Regions from separate parts of the Homo sapiens genome. Here region 2 is linked to region 1. The links come from fine-mapping of genetic effects on gene expression. A gene starts in region 1. The other region holds a variant in brackets. All regions are shown on one strand. Distances are from middle to middle. Region 1 holds the start of EPM2A (EPM2A glucan phosphatase, laforin). Region 2 has its middle 190 kb from the start of EPM2A-DT.

The links. PIP is the estimated chance that this variant, and not a neighbour inherited with it, causes the effect. A credible set is the group of variants that fine-mapping cannot tell apart.
Region 2: its variant is the best candidate, but not a certain one, in a credible set for the expression of EPM2A in Th2 cells (Schmiedel 2018, PIP 0.70).

The regions. Positions count from the first base shown.
Region 1 is chr6:145,733,142-145,737,540 of GRCh38, forward strand. EPM2A (EPM2A glucan phosphatase, laforin) reads right to left here and starts at 2,379. Exons shown (of 4, transcript NM_005670.4): 1 at 2,057-2,379. The coding sequence starts at 2,357. EPM2A-DT (EPM2A divergent transcript) reads left to right here and starts at 1,728. Exons shown (of 3, transcript NR_038246.1): 1 at 1,728-1,779. RefSeq lists a silencer at 1,854-2,443 and enhancers at 2,604-2,663, 2,674-2,723, 2,744-2,793.
Region 2 is chr6:145,539,450-145,543,848 of GRCh38, forward strand. It overlaps a transcript of EPM2A not described here. Among named protein-coding and RNA genes, the nearest start is that of EPM2A-DT, 190 kb to the right of the region's middle. The variant C/A (reference allele first, on the strand shown) is at 2,480.

The sequences.
Region 1 (4,399 bases):
TAATAAACCAAAGTGAGACAGGAAGAAATTGTAATATTTTTCTTATCCTCTCTTATAGGAGTAACTTCCTAGAAAGTCAACAGTCAATTTTTAATACAAAACTGAAAATAATTCCTGCTTGGATAGTAAAGAAAAATATTTATCAAAAAAACTGAAAATAATAGTAAAAAAAAATCAGCAGGGAAGACAGAGAGTGAACTTGAGCTAAATTCCTCATATTTCATAACAAGTGTGATGGTTAATTTTATGAGCATCCAGTAGGTGTCAATATCTATTGCCTAATTTTAACTTTTAAAATTATATATAACTTATATGGTAACTATTAGAAAAATTAAAAACAAAAGTTTGTGGTACCTTAAGAAATAGCAACATAAGCAAACTATTAACGGCATAGGGAGGACTATCAGAAAAGCTAAATAACTAGGGAAAGGGAAGATCTTTGTTTCACACCATTTCCATTTTTATTACAATTATCAGATATTATTTTAAAAAATAATTCTACAATACTATGAAAAATAGTAATACTCTGTAAAGAAAGGATAAACTGAAGAGGGTATCTTTCAATTCTGTCATGGTAAAATAACAGACCAATAAATGCTACCAGACCATAAGCCCAGTGAGGTAGAGAAGGAGAACAAGGATAATATATAAACACATTCCACTCTAATCTTCTTTACTGATTCTTTGTTTCTACATCATTACAGGCTAAATGGCCCATTTTTTTTTTCATATAAACTTCTAAAGAGACATTCATTTCATTGACTTCAACTATTGAGTCACACCCACTCCAGTCTACAACCTTGCACATTTCCTTTAAAGAAAGGAGCTGTCTCAATTCAGACACTGTTGGCGGGAGCCGACATTAGATAATCACCCTTTTAGGGCATAATTTAGCAGTCTTTAATGAAGTGTTAAAAAAAATGACTGCATTTTGACCTAATAATTTCACTTCTTTGAATCCACTCTGCAGAAACACTCCCGAATGTTCAAAGATATCTGTAAAAGGAATTTCAATTAAGCCACTACTGTTTACGACAGAGGAAAACTGAAAAGAACCTAAATGCACATTGGTAGATGCAGAATAATTTGTTGCCATTTAAAATATACATCTACATGTAAAATACATATCTACGTGTAGTGACAGTGAAAGATGTCCCTAACATATTGTTAGGCAAGAAAAGCAAAAATTCAGAATTACTATACAATTTTTGTAAAAAAAAAAAGTATATGCATATATCACATACATAAATGTGTACAAGCAGTGTGCTTAAGATGTGTGGAGGAAACACTGTAAGTTTTCACTATGTACATTTCTTTATTATTATTTTACAACCAGCATGTATTGTTTTAGTATTTTAAGAAATCAGGTCATGTCTCAATTGTCATATATCTGGGATTAAAAAAGAAAAAAAAATCCAAAAAGGGAAATATTCAACGTTTTTCCATTAGTTCATTCTCAATATCTATGAAAAAAATCTAAGTAGCACATTGCTGTCTAGGATTAGCGAAAACGCTAGTTTCGTTGGTTGGATCGTTTTGGGTTTTTTTTAGTGAATTAGAGCAGGAAAATGAGGACACAAAACCCAACCAAGGCGGAGTTGGGCTGTTGAAGCCATCAGCGGCGCGCGGCCGGGCAGCCAAGGGACCCGCGAAGGGGGGGACTCGGAGGTCGAGGGGCACTCGGAGGGCGAAGGGAGCCCCGGGCGGGAGACGAAGGGCACTGGCCCGTGACGCAGGCGCGGTTGGAAAGAAGCTGAGGACTGGATGTGCGGAAACCAGGTCAGAGGGGCAGGCAACAGAGTGGGCGGGAAGGCGGCCGGGAGCGCTATACGGGTCTAGGGAATCAGTAGGAAGCCGGAGGCGCGGCTGGCGGCGACAGCGTGGCCGGCAGAGCAGGGTCAGCCCAGGTCGCCCGGGGAGTGCGCAGGGACGCGGGCAAAAAGCCCGGGACGCGCGCCGCCGGGGCCTGCGGGGCCTGCCCGAGGCCGAGGCCCCGGTTGGGGGTGCGGGCCGGAGCTCCCGCTCTGCGCCGGGGGCAGGCGTCTGCTGGCAATACCTTCCCAGGAGAGCTCTCCTCCCGGCTCCCGCTTCAGGAACTTGTACCAGAACGTGTCCACGCGGCCCGGCTCCGCCCCGTCCTGCGCCGCCTCCTCGGCCGCCAGCTCCACCTCCCCGAGCCACAGGCCCGGCTCCTGCAGGGCCAGGGCCCCGTCGCCCGCCGCGGTGCCGGCCGGCCTCAGGCGGACGGCACCGCGCGGCTCCCAACGCCCCAGCTCGGGCCGCGACCCCACCACCAGCAGCTCCGGCCGGGCGCCGGCCACGGCGGGTGGCACCACCACCCCAAAGCGGAAGCGCATGGCGGGCGGCGGCGGCGCGAATACCCGGGCCCGGAGTCCCCGCGGCCGGCAGGCGCGGCCCGAGCACTAGGCGGCCGCAGCGATTGGGCGGTGGTGTGGGAGCCCCGGGCACCGGGGAGAACACGTGCTGTTCTGCGCCTTCTTTGGGATGCATCACGCGGCTCCCGAGCCCAGACTTCGTCCAGGCCGGCGGGAAGGGGTCAGCGGAGCCGCTAGCTGCCTCTTTGTGCCCCGCAACCCCGCGGGCGGTTGATTTCCACCTGTGGGCGCTGGGGACACGCGACCGGAAGAAATGGAAGAGAAAACGGGGTTCGGGGAGGGAGGAAAACTTCTAAGCCAGGCGATCGTCCAGTTCTCTCTCCAAGAGACTGGAAATTAACTTTATGAGGATCATAAGGAAGGGAATGACCTCTAGACAGCCGCCTTCTAATTGTGAAACGGGGGAAGATCTTGGACCTGGTCTCTGGAGCGCTCCCTATCTTAACCAAGTCACTTACTCTAGCAGGTCTCAGGTTCTTTGTCTGTAAAATGAGGGTGTAAAATAATGATCTTTCTAGACCCTACGAGCTCTGAAGGATCTCTGATTGGTGGAGATCACCCAAGACCCGGAGCTGATGCAAAACATTACCTACCATTCCCTTGTCTGAAAAGCCACATCAACTTTCTTTTTTCAAAAACTATATTTTTAGTATGTGTAAAGTAAGTTTGGAGTAAATACTTTCAAGTCCTTTTCAAGGTCAAAACAAAAACTAATTCTGTGACTACAAATGTATGCTTTTTTTTTTTTTTTTGAGACAGAGTCTCGCTCTGTCCAAATGTATGCATTTTTAATGGAGTAAATTAAAAAAAAAAACCTTTGTTTAAAATTTACTTTCAGCAAAAGTCAGCATTATTTTTTCAACTTAAAACCTTTTTGGGTTTTAAGTTGAAACAGGTTTTTTAGCTGTCTGGCCCAAATCCAAAATACGTATATCTTGGTGGGGAACTTCAATTTGTCTCTGCCATAAGACAAACGAATGTCCTGATACTTTTTGATTCTTTAACAAAATTATCCTTGTATTCTTAGGTTTATATATTCACTAACATTTAACATAACACAAATCTGTTACGTGAATTAAAGACACACAAAGGCATTTTTACCAGTGTTTGGAAGTTTGTGAATAGTAAAGGGGAACAGGCCAAAATTTCATGCGTTGAGGATATAAGTAAAACAGAAAGTGCAAAAATGTAAACTACACAAACTCAATCTCTTGTGGAACAATTAGAAAACTAATAATACATTTTACTCTTGAATGTTGATATTCCACTCGAAGTTTGGTTGGTTGCTAAGCTTAAGGATAAACACTATGAAAAATGTGAAGACAGAAGGGCTGGCCAAACACAGCTGATTCGGCAGCAAATCACACATTAAATCACAGTGGCATGTGAGTCGGTTTATTCAAATTGCTGTTAAAAGATATTCTTAGAGTAAGTTTAGGAAAATAAGAGTCATTTGGCGATGCAGAGAGGATTTTGTCTACAGTGGAATCCAGACTCCGGTGAAAGTTCTCATTCCTTCAGGACCTGGGAGCTAACAGCTCCGGACTTTCTTGTGCTCCACTGTGCTGCCTATGTTGTGTGCTTCCCAAATGGCATTATTCCCACCAGCTCTTCCAGAGTGAGTTCTGCCCATTCTGTAGAAGAAACAGTAGCGGAAAAATTAAACAATATCTTTGCTCAACGGACATTGTTTCCTTTACTCTTCTTTCATCATAAAGAGGTTGAAATAATTTTAACCATTGGAAGAAGTAACCCTCTTAAGCCCCTAAACAAAATTTGTAATAGCTTATTTTATGGCAAGGATTTAAATAAGGTATAAATTGGATAGCTGCACTGTGTAGTAAGTAAAATGCAACTGGAAAGGAGAACAAGACCAAAATAGGGCTTAAGGGACATATATCAAGGCCTTGATCATATTTTGACGGTCAGTCATTTGGATGTATAAGTATTAACCATGATAATATCCATTGAGCCTATATTATGGGCCAGGCACATGGTTTTCG
Region 2 (4,399 bases), 190 kb before region 1:
GAGGGCCTAAATGTAAGGATTTGCCCTGCCAGCGATAAGGAGGAGAATTTGTTGGTTGCACTGGAGAGGGAGAACAGAGCTAGAGAAAGACAGAAAAGGAGAGAATGTCCATCATTGTTTATAATTCCTTATGTCTTTCCAAAACACTTCAAGCCTAAACTACCAAAACTCTCACTGTGATTGGAACTTATATGAAAATTGATGAAGGGACTATAGTTTTGGTCCCAGTCCAAAGAAGAAACAAGATAAAAAGTCAAACTTAATTGTATTAACCATGACTTTTTGTTTTCCGTATTTTGATGCTTTGATGTATGGGGTCTTGCTGATCCTGAAGGGCTACCTCTCCCAGGGTTAGCCAATTCCTAGGGATAGTAAACAATTCACCCCTAAGTACACCTTTCAAAGGACCAAACAATCCATGGTCCACACCTCCAAACTACCTTTCTTGTCAGGCTCTGGGCCACTATCCACCCACCTTAAACATCCCAGGGCCAGGGATTAGGCAACTCGAAACAGCTACTATGACTCAGAGCCTGGAATTATTCAAACTAGACAATCCTTCACCATTTTATCCTGCCTTGGCTGTTTCTTCCAGCAGAAACCACAATAAAGGCTCTTGCCTAAAGTGACCCCCGCCGTGTCTGCCTCCAGCCTGACCCTGGTGCTTCTCCTGTGGCCCCCATGGCACCATGCCCCCTCCTCTTGAGAACAGTGAGCAACAAACTATCTTTTCAATGACAATTGTCTCCTGATCTGTTGCCCTTGCTGTATCTCAAACTTTCTATTAATAAACTGAACTTTAAAACACTGGTGGAAAAAAACTGAAAGGAAACTACAAGGAAAGAATACATTGGAAGTTACTGATGCTGTGAAAGAGTTCTGAATTCTCAGATCTCAGCTTGGGTTGAGCCAAAATTACTTTAACCCCTGAGAGGGAAGAAGACCCCATACTTGGTTCTGAAGAAGTTATCTTTGCTTCCCCTCAGCACTACTCACCTCCCTTCCCCTGTTACTTGGTGTGAATCGCTAACCCAATAACAACCTCAACAAATTTTTTTCATGACACCAGGGATTCTCATATGTATGTTAGAATCCTAGAGCAGGAAAGGATCTTACCGTTGCACATTTTCAGCTCTGAACCAAAGCATGAATCTCCAATCCTAGACTTCTGGTCAAGTTTGAACTGAACTCAGTGATAAGTAAAGAATAAAATACTTTGCTTTTTAGGGAAATTTGTCTTTTACTAGTAAAGACGCATTTCAGAAAACAAATTTCAAACATTTTACAAAAATGAAAAAGATCAAAAACTAGGGGCGTGGTAAATTCAGAGTCCTAAAATCACTTCAAAATTTAAATTACTTAGAGGACAGGTGTATATGATAGAAATTACCTTCCATTTCCATTTAAAAGGATGTATTAAAATATTGAGTAACTATAATTATGCTAAATCTGTTCTCATCTCTGATTCATCACAAAATGAATGAGTAATTCAAAGCCAAATATAAATTTTGGCCTATAACTGGCAGAACTGGCAGCCTTTTCAATTGTATGTGAGGATGCAATACTCTTTAACATACACACATGCACACACATACATGCACGCATTCCATTTTCCCCCTAATTTTAAAGATGTGAGCAGATGTCTTGTGACCCAGAAAAAAGCATGTATGAAAACAGTTTAATCAAGAACTAAAAATAACTTTTTAACTATTTGGGAATATATATATCTGTGTGTGTGTGTGTGTGTGTGTGTGTGTGTGTACCAAGTATATGTGTAAATATATAATTATATAACATACATACATATATAATTATATATGTGTGTGTATATATATAAAAAACACCAATTTGTGTGTGTGTGTATATACATATATATGTGTATATATATGTGTGTGTGTATATATATATATATGATCGGTGTTCTATATTGGAATAAATCATTAATGGTAAGCCATTTAAATAAATGAAAATACTTTGGGTTATTTTTACCCAGCAAGCTGAAATTTTCTCAAAGCAAATTTGTATGTAAACAATCTATGTTGTTCAACTTTAAAAAAATTAATGATTTTGTAAGTACATTACCTCATTTTCAACAAATGCTTCCAAAGTTGCCAATTGAAGGTGTCAAAACGAGTCAAGAATTCCTGAATTTTCATCTTTGTATTCTCAGCATTGGCACGGTTATCTGTCATATTGTGGATACTAAAGAGATGTTTTTAATGACTGAATGAAGCAGAATGAAGAATATACTTGCAATGATGGCCATAAAATGATGAGGATCCTCCAGAGGCAGATATGAGACAAATTAACATGAGTATCTTTAATTTTGATATATTATGAAAAATTCTTGTGCACAGGAATCCGCCCAAATGACATAGAACTCTGATTGATTTCTGTACCTTGAAAGGCACAGAAAATTATATAGCAGAACATTATACATTTCCAAGTAATATGTCGATTTTTGGATAATTTTTCTTAC[C/A]TTTTTTTTAAAACCTCACTTTTACATATGAGGAGATGATGCTTAAAAAAAAAAGAGGCAAGGCTTCTCAAATAAAGCATAGAATTGTTTGAAAGGAATTGGAGACCAATGTGCAATTAGTAGAAAACATTATCAGACTACAATATAAAACATAACTGAAAGGAAAACATTGAGTTAGAAAGTCAAAAGTCTATGTCTTCACGAGCATATAGGCACTAAAGCTTCTGAATATTTCTTCACCATGAAAAGCACTGTTAAAGATCAGAAGGCCATCTTTTTTCTCTGCTTCCCAAATTTCATGTGGGATGCTTGCATCCACCTTTCTAAATTCCCTTTGCCATAACAACTGGACAGATTCATCTCTTCTTCCTCTTCAAAAAGAAAGTTATGGCATGCTGACACAGCTTGCCTTTTCCTGGTGGACAAGTGGATTTCAGCGATGAGTGAACAGTCATGCATCCTGGATTGGGGGCTATACAAAGTCATCTTCAATTCTGACTGAAGTGTCCTTCAAGATGTCCAGGAAAGGGGCAGCTTAAAAAACATATGCAGGTGAAAATAGTATGAGAAGATGTTGGAATATAACAAAGTCAACTGCTGAGGCAAAGACATTTTACTGAAAGCCAAAAATAGTCAGGGAATGAAATACTTTTCATAAAGCCAATTAGAGCATATTCACCTGATGTCATTTGGTAGGTAATTGAAGCCAGGGACCCTTGTTAGTCCCCTCTGGACAGTCAAATGTTGTTTTGGATTCTTTAGTCTATGATACTTGGCTTTATTTTTTGTTAGTTTGTTTGCTTCCTTCTGTTTTTTTCTGTTTTTGGTTTTGTTTTGTTTTGTTTTTGAGAAGGAGTCTCACTCTTGTTGCCCAGGCTGGAGTACAATGGTGCAATCTCGGCTCACCGCAACCTCTGCCTCCTGGGTTCAAGTGATTCTCTTGTCTCAGCCTCCCGCGTAGCTGGGATTACAGGCACTTGCCACTACTCCCAGCTAATTGTTGTATTTTTAGTAGAGACGGGGTTTCTCCATGTTGGTCAGGTGGGTCTCGAAATCTTGACCTCAGGTGATCCACCAACCTCAGCCTCCCAAAGTGCTGGGATTACAGATTACAGGTGTGAGCCACTGCACACAGCCAGCTTCCTTTCGTTTTTGTATTTTGTTTTGTTCATTATGTTTGCATTTCTCACCAATTCTCATTGCTATATTAGATTTATGAGATTAAAAAGATGAGCAATATGGCCTTAAAAAAGATATAAACAGAATAGAAGCAAAGGATGCTCTTTTTTTTTCTTAATCACGAAGAATGAATGGCACTTACAGTAATCAATACAGTCAAAATAAATTACCATCAGTTCAAAGAATGATTAGTGAATCCAGAAAGGTGTCTACACAAGCAAAAATAGCATTATAAAAATAATAAATCTAGGCCAGTGTCAACGCCAAACCATAGAATGGAGAACATAGCCTCTTGTCAAAAAAGGTCTTGATGGAAGTCACCCAAAAAACCTTCTCATTTTCCAGATGAGAATTCTGCAGCTCAGAAACATTAAACGACTTGCCCAAGGCCATACAATTAATTTTGGTAGAACTAGAAAAAAAAATAAAGTTTACTGGTTCCAAATCACCTGCTTTTTCTATCAAAACAGGGTCTTTAATAATTTAAAGAAAAAAAAGTATTTGTTTTATATTTAGTTTTTCATCAAAGAAGGGGTTTCTTCAGGATATGGGAGAAATGTGGATATTAAGAATATATTCCAGGCAACTCCTGAATACTAAGACATTGACTGTATTGATTACATGGATTGTAGATTTTCCAGACCACTCATTACATTGGTCTTTGTCATGTCCTTTCTCTCCACTGGGCCATTTTCCCCCTAGATTTCCAAGAACTGTGAAAGGAAAAAGATGGATGTACAC